Linked DNA regions of Homo sapiens. The protein of the gene in region 1 interacts with the protein of each later gene in a biochemical or structural test. Each region holds a gene or a part of one and is shown in the gene's direction. Other genes may lie near its edges.

Region 1 (8,424 bases):
CCTGCATCCCACAGAAGGCAAAAAATGTTGCCAGTGAGAGGGAGCTCTACATCCCATCTGTGGATCTTCTGACTGCCCAGGTGGAAGATTCAGCACTTTGAAGGGCAAGGGACAGAGGGAGAGAGCACAGGAGAGAAGGTGGTAGAGCCATAGGCAGTAATCAGGAAATCAGAGATATGCCCACTTTGATCTAGTCAGGTATATTTAATGGGAAGGAGATCACCCATGGAAGCAAGTTTGTAAACTAGATGTTTCCTCTTTGAATTGGGAACTCAATCCTGTACTTCCCCACAAACTCCCTTTAGTTGCCTCTTCACCTTGGCCTAGCTAATTCTCCTTCATACCTGCTGCATTTTCTCTTTCCTGCTATTGGGTTATTTCAACATCTAATTCCCATTTAACTCTTCTTGTTTTCACTTGTCTGGGGACAGGCATGAATTTGAACAGAGTTGAATACGAAATGATGTGGAAATGGTCTACAGGTCCCATCAAGACATGGCTCCAGCATGCACTCCAAACAGCCTAACATTGTCTTTTTTTATAGGACCTGCTGTCCTTTGAGCTGTTGGATATAAACATTGTTCAAGAGTTGGAGAGAGTGCCCCACAACACCCCTGTGGGTAAGAATGTCACTCATTTCATCTTGTTCGTCTTACTAATAGGCACAAAAGTACCACAGCCTAGACACTGGTAGTGTTTTATTCTGAGGAAATGGCAAGGATTTCTCCCACAGTAGGATAGTAAAGCAGCAATCATGGATCCGTTTTTCTTCTTTCCTGTCCTTTGTCAAAAGTAACAACATGCTGGGCATGGTGGCTCGTGTCTATAATCCCAGCTCTTTGGGAGGCCAAGGCAGGAGGATCACTTGAGGCCAGGGTTTGAGACCAGCCTGGGCAACATGGTGAAACCCCCATCTCTACAAAAATTACTTTTAAAAATTAGCTGGGTGTGGCCAGGCACGGTGGCTCACGCCTGTAATCCCAGCACTTTGGGAGGCTGAGACGGGCAGATCACCTGAGGTCGGGAGTTTGAGACCAGCCTGACCAACATGGAGAAACCCCTTCTCTACTAAAAATACAAAATTAGCTGGGCATGGTGGCACATGCCTGTAATCCGAACTACTCGGGAGGCTGAGGCGGGAGAATTGCTTGAACCCAGAAGGCGGAGGTTGTGGTGAGCTGAGATTGCACCATTGCACTCCAGCCAGGACAACAAGAGCAAAACTCCGTCTCAAAAAAAAAAAAAAAAAAAATTAGCTTGGCATGGTGGCCTGCACCTGTGGTCCCAGCTACCAGGGAGACTGAAGTGGGAGAATCTCCTGATCCCAGGAGGCAGAGGCTGCAGTGAGCCAGGATTGTGCCATTGCTCTCCAGCCTGGATGACAGAGTGAAACCCAATCTCAAAAAACAAACAAAAAAAAGAGGCTGGGCACGGTAGCTCACGCCTGTAATCCCAGCACTTTGGGAGGCCAAGGCTGGTGGATCACAAGGTCAGAAGTTCAAGACCAGCCTGGCCAAGATGGTGAAACCCCATCTCTACTAAAAATACAAAAATTAGCCAGGCATGGTGGCAGGTGCCTGTAATCCCAGCTACTCGGGAGGCTGAGGCAGAGAGTTGCTTGAACCTGGGAGGCGGAGGTTGCAGTGAGCCGAGATTGTGCCACTGCATTCTAGCCTGGGTGACAGAGCAAGACTGCATCTCAAAAAAAAAAAAAAAAGCAATAAAACAAGTTCGTGCAAGGCTTTTCCACTATAAAGGAATCCTCTTCTCTTTTTTCCCTCTAGATACTTGTGTCCTTTTGTTCCTTTATGTTCATGGTTTTGTGTCTTGGCCACAGCTTTCCAGGCTAAATAACTGTGATTCTTCCTGCATTGATTGATCTGAGATATTTTGCTTACTTATTGGTCTGGAGAAATTTTTTGTAACAGACCTCAAAGCATATCTTGGTTTATTTTAGCCCTGCGGGAGGCAAGAAGCCTACAAACTGCTACTTCTGGACACTGACTGTTGATGATATGATGCTTTCTCTTGATTGATGGTTCTCCTGTCTTCATTCTCCAGATGTGACTCCCTGCATGTCTCCTCTGCCACATGACAGTCCTTTAATAGAGAAGCCAGGCTTGGGGCAGATAGAGGAAGAGAATGAAGGGGCAGGATTTAAAGCACTTCCTGGTAAGGGATTAAACATTTGTAAAGTATTTGCATCCTCCCTTTCCATATCATACCCTATTTTACAGCTATCCCCTACTGACCCTACCTTAGCATGTAAATGGGCTTGCTTTCTGTAGCATCTCATGTTTTGAAGTCTCCTCACCTTCACATGGCACAGATAGCAGCTATTCCTTGGTTTAGTTTTAGCATGGGTAATGACTGGTGAATGTTCTTCAGCACTTTAAACACCAAGTGCAGACAAAGTTTAGATAGCAGCTATTCCTTGGTTTAGTTTTAGCATGGGTAATGACTGGTGAATGTTCCTCAGCACTTTAAACACCCAGTGCAGATAAGGTTCGTGTGTCTTTCAGATTCTATGGTGTCAGTAAAGAGGAAGGCTGAGAACATTGCTTCTGTGGAGGAAGCAGAAGAAGACCTGAGTGGGACCCAGTTTGTGTGTGAGACAGTAATCCGATCCCTTACCTTGGATGCTGCCCCAGACCACAACCCTCCTTGCAGACAGAAGTCCTTGCAGAGTGAGTGTCCTTGCATTTCCCCTACCTAGCAGGGTGGCACCTGAATTGTGACTGCCAGACTTGACTAGTTAGATGTGCTCTTCTTCACTGAGACTGAAGGGAGAGTGATCTTAGTTAGAAGTTCTGATCTTGGCGGGGCGTGGTGGCTCAAGCCTGTAATCCCAGCACTTTGGGAGGCCAAGGCAGGCGGATCACAAGGTCAGGAGATCAAGTCCATCCTGGCTAACATGGTGAAATCCCATCTCTACTAAAAATACAAAAAATTAGCCTGGCGACGTGGCGGGTGCCTGTAGTCCCAGCTACTCGGGAGGCTGAGGCAGGAGAATGGCATGAACCCGGGAGGCGGAGCTTGCAGTGAGCCAAGATTGCGCCACTGCACTCTAGCCTGGGCGACAAAGCGAGACTCCATCTCAAAAAAAAAAAAAGAAATTCTGATCTTGTTTGTGTCTTTAGACTCTACGTATGCTACCTGACTGTTCTAATTAGAGCATCAGGAGTAAAGAAGCCATCATACTCATTTCTCCATCTTCTCAGGGGCAGAATTACAGCTGCATTCCACAGTGGAATAGCAGCCAGTTGTGCTGCCTGGATTCTGCAGTAAGGAATCTTCCTGTAATTTGACAGAGCTCCTTAGCAGAGACCCCTATGGGTAGCTGAGTTGTCTGCTTTCTCCAAGGGCAGCAGTCCCAGAAACAGTGGATAGAAGCAGGAGTACCAACAAAGTTTCTCAAGGTTAAATTCTGCTGTAATAAATACCTTTATAGGCCGGGCACAGTGGCTCACCCTTGTAATCCTAGCACTTTATGAGGCTGAGGCGGGTGGATCACCTGAGGTTGGGAGTTCGAGACCAGCCTGACCGACATGGAGAAACCCCATCTCTACTAAAAATACTAAAAATTAGCCAGGTGTGGTGGCTACATGCCAAGGATTACATGCCTGTAATCCCAGGTACTTGGGAGGCTGAGGCAGGAGAATCACTTTAACCCGGGAGGCGAAGGCTGTGGTTAGCCGAGATGGCGCCATTGCACTCCAGCCTGGCAACAAGAGTGAAACTCCGTCTCAAAAAAAAAAAAAGGAATAAATACCTTTATAACAGAAACTTCTAGGTATCAGATAGATAGAACCAATAGCATATATTTTAAGAAGTATCCAAAAATTCAAATATACTATGTCAAAATAATATTGGAGAATCTCTTTATTATAATCAAATTTGACCTATATCTTTAAATATTATTTATCTTACTTTTGTTTAAAGTATACATGTAAGGCCAGGCGCAGTGGCTCACGCCTGTAATCCCAGCACTTTGTGAGGCCGAGGCGGACAGATCACAAGCTCAGGAGTTTGAGACCAGCCTGACCAACATGGAGAAACCCCATTTCTACTAAAAATACAAAAATTAGCTGGGCGTGGTAGCGTGTGCCTGTGATCCAGCTACTCAAGACGCTGAGGCAGGAGAACTGCTTGAACCCGGGAAGCCAAGGTTGCAGTGAGCTGAGATCGCACCACTGCACTCCAGCCTGGGTGACAGAGCGAGACTCCGTCTAAAAAAAAAAAATAATAAAGTGTACATGTGGCCAGGTGCGGTGGCTCATACCTGTAATCCCAGCACGTTGGGAGGCCGAGGTGGGCGGATCATGAGGTCAGGAGATGAAGACTATCCTGGCTAACACGGTGAAACCCCATCTCTACTAAAAATACAAAAAATAAGCTGGGTGTGGTGGCGGGCGCACCTGTAATCCCAGCTACTCGGGAGGCTGAGGCAGGAGAATGGCGTGAACCTGGGAGGTGCAGCTTGCAGTGAGCTGAGATCATGCTACTGCACTTCAGCCTGGGCAACAGAGTGAGACTCCATCTCAAATCAATCAGTCATGTATATCTTTATATTTTTTTCCACATGTGTGTACAAATACATAACAAAAAGGTCTGGAAAGACAGTACCAAAATGTTCACAGCTGTTATTCTGATAGGATTTATGGGTAATTTTTTTTTTTTTTTTGAGATAAGGTCTCACTCGCCCAGGCTAAAGTGCGAGTAGCAAGTTTATGGCTCATTGCAGCCACAACATCCTGGGGTCCCCCTACCTCTGTTTCCCAAGCAACTGGGACCACAGCCACATGCTACCACAATGAGCTAAATTTTTTTTTTTTTGTAGAGATGGGATTTCGCCACGTTGCCCAGGCTGGTCCCAAACTTCTGAGCTCAAGCAGTCTGCCTGCCTTGGCCTCCCAACGTGCTGGGATTTTAGGCGTAAGCCACCACACCTGGCCTGGGTAGCTTTTTTTTTTTTTGGGACACAGTCTCTGTCACCCAGGCTGGAGTGCAGCAGCGCGGTCTCGGCTGACTGCAACCTCCGCCTTCCCAGGTTCACACCATTCTCCTGCCTCAGCCTCCCGAGTAGCTGGCACTACAGGCGCCCGCCACCATGCCCGGGTAATTTTTTTGTATTTTTAGTAGAGATGGGGTTTCACCGTGTTAGCCAGGATGGCCTTGATATCCTGACCTCATGATCTGCCCACGTTGGCCTCCCAAAGTGCTGGGATTACAAGCGTGAGCCACCGTGCCTGGCCCTGGGTAGCTTTTTTCTATCCTTTTTTACCCTCTCAAACATGATTGGCCAGTTTTCTCCCATGACTGCATCATCTTTGTAAAGAAGAGGAGGAGATAGACATATAATCCTGCAATACTCATCTCCTAACTTTTTCTCTTTTTATAGCACTGTTAGTGTATCAGTTTTGGTTTAAACTCTACTCAGTATATTAACCATCACATAAAAAGGAAAAAAGGGATGGAGCTGCCTCCTTTTATGATTCATAGAGCTTCTTGGAAACCTGAGTGTTTCTGCCTACCTTGTTTCTGTGAGCTTTGATTCTATTTTGTTTTGCATAGTCTTCAAACTTAGAATATGGTCATAGTTCCAGAACCAGCCCTTCCCTTTAGTTCTTCCCTCTCCTCTGGCTTTCATAATTCTAGCTTATGATCCACAAGGCTTTACCAAGTAAGGATAGTACTTAGGCCTGCTTTTAGCTTCCACCTTAAAATTGGTTGCTTTCATCCTTTAGTGACATTTGCCTTGCCTGAAGGACCACTTGGAAATGAGAAGGAGGAGATTATCCATATCGCTGAGGAAGAAGCTGTCATGGAGGAGGAGGAGGATGAGGAGGATGAGGAGGAGGAGGATGAGCTCAAAGATGAAGTTCAAAGTCAGTCCTCTGCTTCCTCAGAGGATTACATCATCATCCTGCCTGAGTGCTTTGATACCAGCCGCCCCCTGGGGGATTCTATGTACAGCTCTGCGCTCTCACAGCCAGGCCTGGAGCGAGGTGCTGAAGGCAAGCCTGGGGTTGAGGCTGGGCAGGAACCAGCTGAGGCTGGGGAAAGACTCCCTGGAGGGGAGAACCAGCCACAGGAGCACAGCATAAGTGACATCCTCACGACCTCACAGACTCTGGAAACAGTGCCCCTAATCCCAGAGGTAGTGGAGCTTCCACCGTCACTGCCCAGGTACCACTCACAGCCCCCTCAGCTGGGGTGTTCTTCAGAGGTGAAATAAAGAGAGGAATCGACCTGATCTCAAAACCTGTTTTTTCCTCAGTATGGAAAGAGACTATTTTCCATAGCAAAGTCTGAATTTAGATGAATAAAAGTTGTATTTCCCAGTATTTGTGGATTCTGGATTTAAAGAAATATTTGTTTTAGTTGGCCTTAAATTATCTGAGTATAGTCTGTCTGCTTATATTTTGATTATTGAGAGCTGGTTGTGTTTTTTTTTTTTTTTTTTTGAGACAGGGTCTCAGTCTGTTGCCCAGGCTGGAGTGCAGTGGCACAATCTTGGCTCACTGCCACCTCTGCCTCTGAGGCTCAAGCAATCTTCCCACCTCAGCCCCCTGAGTAGCTGGGACTATAGGCATGGGCCACCACACCTAGCTAATTTTTGTATTTATTGTAGAAGCGGGGTTTTGCCACGTTGTCCAGGCTGGTCTTGAACTCCTGGCCTTAAGCGATCCAACTGCCTGGGTCTCCCAAAATGCTGGAATTACAGGTGTGAGCCACTATGCCTGGCTGAGAGCCAGTTTTTAAACACAAACATCCCTGGACCTTCCCTCCTTGTTTTATTGACTCTTCAGTAAAGGCAGCAAAAACTCAACCCAAACAGTCATAATTAGGAAGTTAAATCCATTATGGGAAAAAACACTATAAAACCAAACTAATTATTTTTAATTCTCTGGTGAATCTATCTGAATCATTCTTGTCTCCTAATAGTAGGGAAAATGCTGGAGCCTTGACTATAATGTAAACCATTCTCCCCAAAAGCTAGACATTTCCGTTTATTGACACCACTTGATATAGGTGGGGACATGACCAGACTGAAGCCAACATTTCTAGCTTGCCTGTGGCTAAAGAGGAAAATGGGGTAGAATGTAGCCCTTATGATGGAACCCTAAATCCAGACATGTGATCTGGATCAGAAATGTGAAGCCTCTGTAGAGAATTTGGCACTGCTGTGCTGTGTTTACTATTTCTCCACTGTTGCCATAAGTGCCTTTTCAATTTACTTTCCATATTGTGTCTTTCTGAAAGGAGCTCTCCTTGTGTACATCATCATGGTTCCCCAGGAGTGGATTTACCAGTTACCATACCAGAAGTTTCTTCAGTCCCTGATCAGATCAGAGGAGGTAATGATCAGCCTAAGCTTTTTCTCTTTTTCTCTGCTCCTGTCTAATGGAAACCAGGTATAAATAGCCTCTCTCTCTTCGTGATTCTTGGTGGTTTTTTGAAACTTGCCCTTCACAGGCCAGGCGTGGTGGCTCACACCTGTAATCCCAACACTTTGGGAGGCCAAGGCAGGCGGATCATAGGGTCAGGAGTTCGAGACCAGCCTGGCCAACATAGTGAAACCCTGTCTCTACTAAAAAATAGCAAAAATTAACCAGGCATGGTGGCGGGCACCTGTAATCCCAGCTACTTGGGAGGCTGAGGCAGGAGAATCACATGAACCTGGGAGGCGGAGGTTGGAGTGAGCCGAGATCGCACCATTGCTCTCCAGCCCGGGCAACAGTGCGAGACTCCGTCTGAAAAAAAAAAAAAAAAAACTTGCCCTTCACTCTCTCCATGCTCCTCCTGCATACTCTAATTTCTATTCTCTGGCTGAATATATTGTTAGACCTCATAGAGGTAGTGGAAAGAACACAGGCTTTGGAGCCAAACAATCTAGGTTCCAGCTCCATCTCCCCCTTTCCTGACTAGCAGTTCAGCAGGTTTCTAATGGCTGTGAGTCTGTTTTCTTACTACAAAATATATCAGTGTGTTAGGATTATAGAGTTGATTTTTCTGATTCAATAAACAATCATCTTGCATTGCATTTCTGGACAGTTTCTCCTTATCACTTAAACTACCCTTAAAACTTCCCAAATACTTTAAAAAAAAAAAAAAAAGACTTCAAACACTGTGATCAGATTGCCACCTGCCTCAATAATAGCCTTGCTGTGAGTTAGGAAACAGTAGGTGCTTATGGATGCTGCATCTAACCAACAGCTCTTTTGCTTTTAGAGCCCAGAGGCTCATCAGGACTTGTAAACAGCAGACAGAAGAGCTATGACCACTCAAGGTAACAACCTTGTGCAGTCTCTTTTTTCAGAAGCAGGTGGATATTCTTGTATTCCTTCTGCTTAAAAGAGCCTCTCACAGTATGTACCCATCTTCAGAGAGCAGAGAAGGGGAGCCTTTGTTCCGTCTTAT
Region 2 (7,712 bases), on another chromosome or scaffold:
GAGATCAAGAGCAGGGAGCAGGCAGACCTAAGTTGGACTCTGGCCCCCAGCCCCCTAACTTCCAGCTCGTCCAAGTCACCTCCTTCTCTAAGACTCAGTTTTCTTGCGTGCAAAGTGCAGGTGAAAGCAGTTGTATTGCTTTGGGGATTCAGTGAGCTATAGTGGCTCTTAGCACAGTGTTTGGTACTTAGCAAGTGCTCAGCAAATGGCAATAGCTGCTGAAGTGACAGTGTCATCACATGTTAACATCCCTATGATGGGTCGTGTGGGAGTAATCACTGTTTTTCTTTGATTCTGCTTAGGGCAAGCAAGCTCCACATATGCGGAACAAACTGGAAAGCTGACCGAATTTGTGTCTAACCTGGCGTGGGATTTCGCAGTCAAAGAAGGGTTCCGGGTTTTCAAAGAGATGCCCTTCACAAATCCGTTAACAAGGTCCTACCACACGTGGGCCAGGCCCCAGTCCCAGTGGTGCCCCACAGGCAGCAGGAGTTATAGCTCCGTTCCAGAAGCTTCCCCAGCTCATACCTCAAGGGGAGGTCTGGTTATCTCTCCAGAGAGCCTCTCTCCACCTGTCAGAGAGCTGTATCACCGGCTGAAGCACTTCATGGAGCAACGTGTGTACCCTGCAGAGCCAGAGCTGCAGAGTCACCAGGCCTCAGCAGCCAGGTGGAGCCCCTCCCCACTGATCGAAGACCTCAAGGTAAAGCAGCCATGGTGAGGTGGTAAGACCCCAATACCATGGCATACCCTCCCCGACCCCACCGGGCTCACCTGAACCATCCCAGGCAGTGAAGATACAGGAGCTCCGAGTTGAATGATCTTTGCTTCCATCGTCTCAGAAAGAGCCAGCTCTTCATGACTCAGTTTCCATCTCTTGCTCTTGCTGTGCCTGTGTCACAGGCAGATGGCTCAGGTGTGACTGCACAGCCCAGGCAGTGGAATGCTTGGCCTTAGAAAGCCAGGGCAGGTTAGGCCTATCTGATGGGTATTTGAATTATGTAAATTTGAAACAGTGCTGTATCAGCTAATAAATCTCTCTCTAGAGAACCCGTAATATCACAGCTAGAGGGCCAGATCCACTGTGAGCTGAGTTTCTGTGTTGTCTCCCAGTGCTGTCACTTCAGCTGATAAACAGAAACACCCGCTGTTCCTTATCACGTGAACCTTGGATTGTGTTAGTTTTGAAATTACTTGAGATCTTCAGGAGCATAATGCAATCATCATCTACTTTTCTTTTTTTCTCTTTTTTTTTGAGACGGAGTCTTGCTCTGTGCAACTTCCGCCTCCCAGGTTCAAGCGATTCTCCTGCCTCAGCCTCCCGAGTAACTGGGATTATAGGCACGTGCCACCATGCCCAGCTAATTTTTGTATTTTTAATGGAGATGGAGTTTCACCATGTTGTTCAGGCTGGTCTTGAACTCCTGACTTTGTGATCCGCCCGCCTCGGCCTCCCAAAGTGCTGGGATTACAGGCGTGAGCCACCATCTCTCTCTTTTTTTTTTTTTTTTTTTTTTTTGAGACAGGGTCTCGCTTTGTCACCCAGGGTGGAATGCAGTGGTGTGGTCATAGCTCACTGCAGTCTCAACCTCCTGGGCTCATGTGATCCTCCCACTTCAGCCTCCTGTGTAGCTGGGACCACAGGCACAGCCACCATGCCCAGCTCCTCATATCATTTTTTTGGGCACACGTGCATGTTTGGTTGTCTGCCTTGTTTCCTCCAATCCCTTTCATTGTTTTCCACGGTTCAAAATAAAATGAAATCTTCCACTGTGGTTTCCTGACTTATTTTCCCCATGATAGGAGAAAGCCAAAGCTGAAGGACTTTGGAACCTTTTCCTACCCTTAGAGGCTGATCCCGAGAAAAAATACGGAGCAGGACTGACCAATGTGGAATATGCACATCTGTGTGAGCTCATGGGCACGTCCCTGTATGCCCCCGAGGTACCTTCTTTAAAGTTTTCCTCAGTGTGTGGGAACATCCTGATCTTCATAAGAACTCAATCCTAAACAGATAAACCAGATTCAGAAGCACTGGCATGAACTTGAACTTTTTTTTTTTTTTGAGATGGAGTCTCGCTCTGTCACCCAGGCTGGAGTGTAGTGGCGAAATCTTGGCGCACTGCAACCCCTGCCTCCTGGGTTCAAGTGGTTCTCCTGCCTCAGCTTCCCAAGTAGCTGGGACTACAGGCATGTGCCACCACACCTGGCTAATTTTTGTATTTTTAGTAGATACAGGGTTTTACCATGTTGGCCAGACTGGTCTCAAACTCCTGACCTCAGGTGATCCACCTACCCTGGCCCCACAAAGTGCTGGGATTACAGGCGTGAGCCACCATGCCCATCCAATTTGAAGCTTGAAATATTAATGTGAGAAGGCCAGGCATGGTGGCTCACACCTGTAATCCCGGTACTTTTGGAGGCCGAAGTGTGGGGGATCACTTGAGGCCAGGAGTTCGACACCAGCGTGTGCAACATAGAACTCTGTATGTACAAAAAAATAAAAAATTAATCGGGTGTGATGGTGCATACCTGTAGTCTCAGCTGCTTGGGAAGCTGAGGCATGGGAGGATGGCTTGAGCTGAGGAAGTCGAGGCTGCAGTGAGCCATGATCGTGCCACGATACTCCAGCCTGGGTGACAGAGCTTGACTCTGTTTTTTTTAGAAGAGGACATGACAGTCATGGTCACGCTCCTTTTCCTTCTCAGGTATGTAACTGCTCTGCGCCTGACACGGGCAACATGGAGCTGCTGGTGAGGTATGGCACCGAAGCGCAGAAGGCTCGCTGGCTGATTCCTCTGCTGGAGGGGAAAGCCCGCTCCTGTTTTGCTATGACCGAGCCCCAGGTACGTCGCCTGGGCTGCCACCCACTTGCCTGGCCCTGTTGTTGTCGGCCCCACAGGGAACACGGGCTGTCTGCTGGCGTCTCTGACTGGAATATGCTCCCCACTCAGGTTGCCTCTTCAGATGCCACCAACATTGAGGCTTCCATCAGAGAGGAGGACAGCTTCTATGTCATAAACGGTCACAAATGGTGGATCACAGGTATTTGGCCTAAAATGCACTTTCCAAATGCACATCAGGGAGTCTGTGCTGTTAGGCGCGTCTCTCAATGCCTGGGAGGAGCCTCTGCTTTTTCAAGTTGACACAAAGGAGATTCTGTCACTTAGCGCCCCCAGCAGAGGCAGCTGGGAGAATAGGAGGGTAATCCGTGGAGCACACTGTTCTCAGAGGTGGCACTTCACAGGGCAGGGACGTCCCCCGGTGCCCACACATGGACGGATGCCTCCCTGCACATGTGACCCCAGGAATCTCTCCACTTCCTGCTGTTCATTCTGCTTTGGGCAGCTCCCCTTCCTTGGTGGCTTCCTGGCTCCTCGATCAGGTGTGTTACATCCTAAGGGCTAATGACAATCCTGACTTTTAGGGATTGTCCAGTGTTACTTTTGCAGGGCCCCTACAAGTAGCCGTGGAGCTTACCTCCCGGAGCCCATACCTCCCTGGACATTAAGAATGAGCATCCCCATTTTGCAAAGGAGGAAACCGCACTCAGACTTAGGTCCCTTGCCTGGGGTATGAGCCCCCAGCCAGCAAGTAGAGAACCCAGAGTCAAAGGTTCACCTGATTCCAAGGCCCGGGCCCAGAGCCGTTATGTGTGCACCACCTGTGGGAGCCGAGCCAGCTGGCAGGGATCAAGTAGCGGTTTTCATCCTCTTGTCTCTAAATTATATTTTCTACTCTATGTGATGCTTTTAAAAACTTGCTCTTATGATGTTGGATTCATTCCTCACTGGGACAAAACCCAATTTGCTCTTATTTCTGGTCAGCAGTCTGCAGATGCTCATCTGATTACATGGAGCCTTAAAGAGCTCTGTCTGCTTCCTTACTGTGCCTTTCTTGGGCCAGGACCACGTGTGTAGAGATTTGATGGCCCTGGTGTCAGATGATGGGGTCTGTCTCTCTCCTTTCCTGGCAGGCATCCTGGATCCTCGTTGCCAACTCTGTGTGTTTATGGGAAAAACAGACCCACATGCACCAAGACACCGGCAGCAGTCTGTGCTCTTGGTTCCCATGGATACCCCAGGGATAAAAATCATCCGGCCTCTGACGGTGTATGGACTGGAAGATGCACCAGGTGAGACCTCCAGGGGCGGGTCACCCCTGGGTGTGGGTCTGGTCCCCAGGAAACACCACTGAGGGGCCCCTGCTCTTGTTCAGGACTTGCCACATCCCACGTCTGAGGGTATGATGACATTTGGAGTCACATGCTCCTGCATTTCATTTCCATACATGAATATCAACCATGCAGGCGGATTTCAGACAGGCATTTATGGATTTTTTTCCCTCTTCTAAACTTAGAAAGTAATCAGGAGTCTGTGACACAGGAAGCCATACAGGGCAGACGCAGGAAGTGGACCCCAAACCTACTCTTCCAGGCCCCAGTGTGAACAGCTGACCTCTAGGCCACAGCCCTGGTTTGGTCCGCTCCCAGTTTGGTTCTCTGCTAATAGTGTTCACATTTTTACTTTCAGTGTTTTCATAGGATCACTACATTGTCACAAACCACTAGGAGCTTCAGCTTAAGGTGGCATTATTATGTTTTTATAAAAGGAATCACAGAATAGTCATTTGCCATTATAAATCAGTGATTCATTTTCTGTGTTTAACAGGCTGTTTCCTGCCGTCCTTTTCCCTTTAACCATGTCCCAGTAAGAAGGCTAAATAAAGGGCAGGGACATTGCCAGCAGATAACCCAGACTGAGGTGAGGAATAAACACATCCAAGGAAAATGACTATGGCTATTGCTCACAGTGATCGTTTGGGTCTTTCAGGTGGCCATGGTGAAGTCCGATTTGAGCACGTGCGTGTGCCCAAAGAGAACATGGTCCTGGGCCCTGGCCGAGGCTTTGAGATCGCCCAGGGCAGACTGGGCCCCGGCAGGATCCATCACTGCATGAGGCTGATCGGGTTCTCAGAGAGGGCCCTGGCACTCATGAAGGCCCGCGTGAGTGCTTTCCCCCGCACCCAGCACTGACTCAGAACCACCACCTTCTGCTTTGCTGTCGGACTTCAATTCCTACCTGTTTTCTGAGTGCAGTCCTAGCAGGTGAAGCAAGGTGATGTCCTTGCCAAGAAGTTGCATTCCTGTCTGCTTTGCATCTGCTACTTTGCTGCAGTTTGGATTCAGAGCAGAATGGACCCCACTCTGTCGAGGTGACCTGAAGGGAAACGCCAGGCTCTGTAGCAGCAGAGGCAAGGTTCCAAGGTGTAAAGGTCATGCTGCTAGCACATTATTAAAAATCAGTCTGGGTGCAATGGCTCACAGCTATAATCCCAGTACTTTGGGAGGTCTAGGTAGGAGGGTTGCTTGAAGCCAAGCATTTGAGACCAGCCTAGGCGAAAAAGAGAGACTCAGTCTCTACAAAAAAAAAAAAAATTTTTTTTTTTTTTTTGAGATGGAGTCTTGCTCTGTCACCAGGCTGGAGTTCAGTGGTGTGATCTCGGCTCACTGCAACCTCCACCTCCCGGGTTCAAGCAATTCTCCTGCCTTAGCCTCCCAAGTAGTTGGGACTACAGGCACGTGCCACCACGCCCAGCTAATTTTTGTATTTTTAGTAGAGACAGGGTTTCACCATGTTGGCCAGGAAGGTCTCGATCCCTTGACCTCGTGATCTGCCCGCCTCGGGCTCCCAAAATGCTGGGATTACAGGTGTGAGCCACCGTGCCCGGCAAAAAAAAGAAAAAGTTTTTTTTGTTTTTTTTTTTTTTGAGACGGAATCTCACTCTGTTGCCTAGGCTGGAGTGCAGTGGCGCGATCTTGGCTCACTGCAACCTCTGCCTACTGGGTTCACACCATTCTCTTGCCTCAGCCTCCCGAGTAGCTGGGACTACAGGCACCCGCCACCATGCCTGGCTAATTTTTTGTATTTTTAGTAGAGATGGGGTTTCACCATGTTAGCCAGGATGGTTTCGATCTCACCGTGTTAGCCAGGATGGTCTCGATCTCCTGACCTCATGATCCGCCCACCTCAGCCTCCCAATGTGCTGGGATTACCGGCGTGAGCCACCGTGCCTGGCCAAAAAGAAAAAGTTTTAAGTGCCAGGCATGGTAGCATGTGTCTCTAGTCCCAGCTACTCAGGAGGCTGAGGCAGAAGGATCGCTTGAGCCCAGGAGTTTAGGGCTGCAGTGAGCAGTGATCACACCACTGCACTCCAGCCTGGGTGACAGAGTGAGACCCTGTCTCTTTAAAAATAAATAAATAAATAAAAATCAGACACCAGGGAGATCCCATGTTGCTTGTTTTTGTCCCTAGGCTTCCATCATCTGGCCTGTACCACCCTCCTCCACAGCACATCCAGAAAACTTTATTCGGCCATAATCCTACCACCCCCAAAGTTTGGAAACCTAGGTTAAAAGACAGCTGCTTCCAGGACAGGAATTCAAATTGGTGATTATCAATTTCAGAAAGGTGACGCAAACCCTGAGACCAAAACCAGTGTCTCACAAGAACTGCTATTGAAAGAACAGAGGCAGTCTGAATTTTTTATTACCGAGCAAACCTGTGATTTACACCCTTTTGAGTTAAGACTGACCAGTTATTTTTTCTTTCTAAGTAAAACGCTCCTGTCTATGGACTCAGGTATGGTGCTTCAGCCCCACATGGAATTAAATTCAGCCTTCTGGCAGAATAATTGGACTGAATGAGTCAGACAGAAGTCTCCAGAAAGTGCATAGCATGAACATGGCACCTCCACTGAAGACTTGGTTGGAGTAATTAGGAATCTACAAAAGATTTGCTACAAGGAGGTTCACCACAGTGCTTATTGAAATAGCAAAATTCTGAACAACCTATAAGGCTAACAATGACTGTTGGCCAAATAAAACACAAGATGGCATACAGTGAGACTTTAAATGATGCTGTGGAAATCTATTCCTTAACATGGAGAAATTGCTCACTATATACACTTAAATTTAAAAAAAAAGACTGTGGCCAGGTGTGGTGACACTCCCAGCACTCTGAGAGGCCGAGGCAGGCAGATTGCTTGAGCCCAGGAATTTGAAACTAGCCTGGGCAATACGGCAAAACCTCATCTCTATAAAAAATAAGGCTGGGCGCGGTGGCTAACGCCTGTAATCTCAGCACTTTGGGAGGCTGAGGTGGGCGGATCACTTCAGGTTAGGAGTTTAAGACCAGCCTCGCCAACATGGTGATACCCCGTCTCTACTAAAAATACAGAAGTTAGCTGGGCATGGTGGCACATGCCTGTAATCCCAGCTACTTGGGAGGCTGAGGCAGGAGGATCACTTGAATCCAGGAGGCGGAGGTTGCACTGAGCTGAGATTGCACCACTGCACTCTAGCCGGAGTGACAAAGCAAGACTCCATCTCAAAAAAAAAAATTAAAATTAAAAAATTAAAAATAGTAGCCAGGTGGGGCTGGGTGTGGTGGCTCATACCTGTAATTCCAGCACTTTGGGAGGCCGAGGTGGGCAGATCACCTGAGGTCGGGAGTTCGAGTCCAGCCTGACCAACATAGAGAAACCCTGTCTCTACTAAAAATATAAAATTAGTTGGACGTGGTGGCGCATGCCTGTAATCCCAGCTACTTGGGAGGCTGAGGCAGGAGAATCGCCTGAACCCGGGAGGTGGAGGTTGCGGTGAGCCGAGATCGCACCATTGCACTCCAGCCTGGGCAACAAGAGCGATACTC

The links. Proteins that work in one complex are often made in the same cells at the same time.
Region 2: the proteins of NBR1 (region 1) and ACAD10 interact in a test that uses a peptide from one of them, tested with the Homo sapiens proteins (one study listed by BioGRID).

What each region holds. Positions count from the first base shown.
Region 1 is NC_000017.11:43,194,420-43,202,843, forward strand, and holds part of NBR1 (next to BRCA1 gene 1 protein), read left to right. Parts: coding exon 1-80; intron 81-544; coding exon 545-620; intron 621-2,061; coding exon 2,062-2,172; intron 2,173-2,522; coding exon 2,523-2,687; intron 2,688-5,747; coding exon 5,748-6,189; intron 6,190-7,266; coding exon 7,267-7,361; intron 7,362-8,235; coding exon 8,236-8,293; intron 8,294-8,424. UniProt on the Homo sapiens protein: Ubiquitin-binding autophagy adapter that participates in different processes including host defense or intracellular homeostasis.
Region 2 is NC_000012.12:111,744,341-111,752,052, forward strand, and holds part of ACAD10 (acyl-CoA dehydrogenase family member 10), read left to right. Parts: intron 1-302; coding exon 303-703; intron 704-1,803; coding exon 1,804-1,944; intron 1,945-2,708; coding exon 2,709-2,846; intron 2,847-2,954; coding exon 2,955-3,045; intron 3,046-3,976; coding exon 3,977-4,135; intron 4,136-4,832; coding exon 4,833-5,005; intron 5,006-7,712.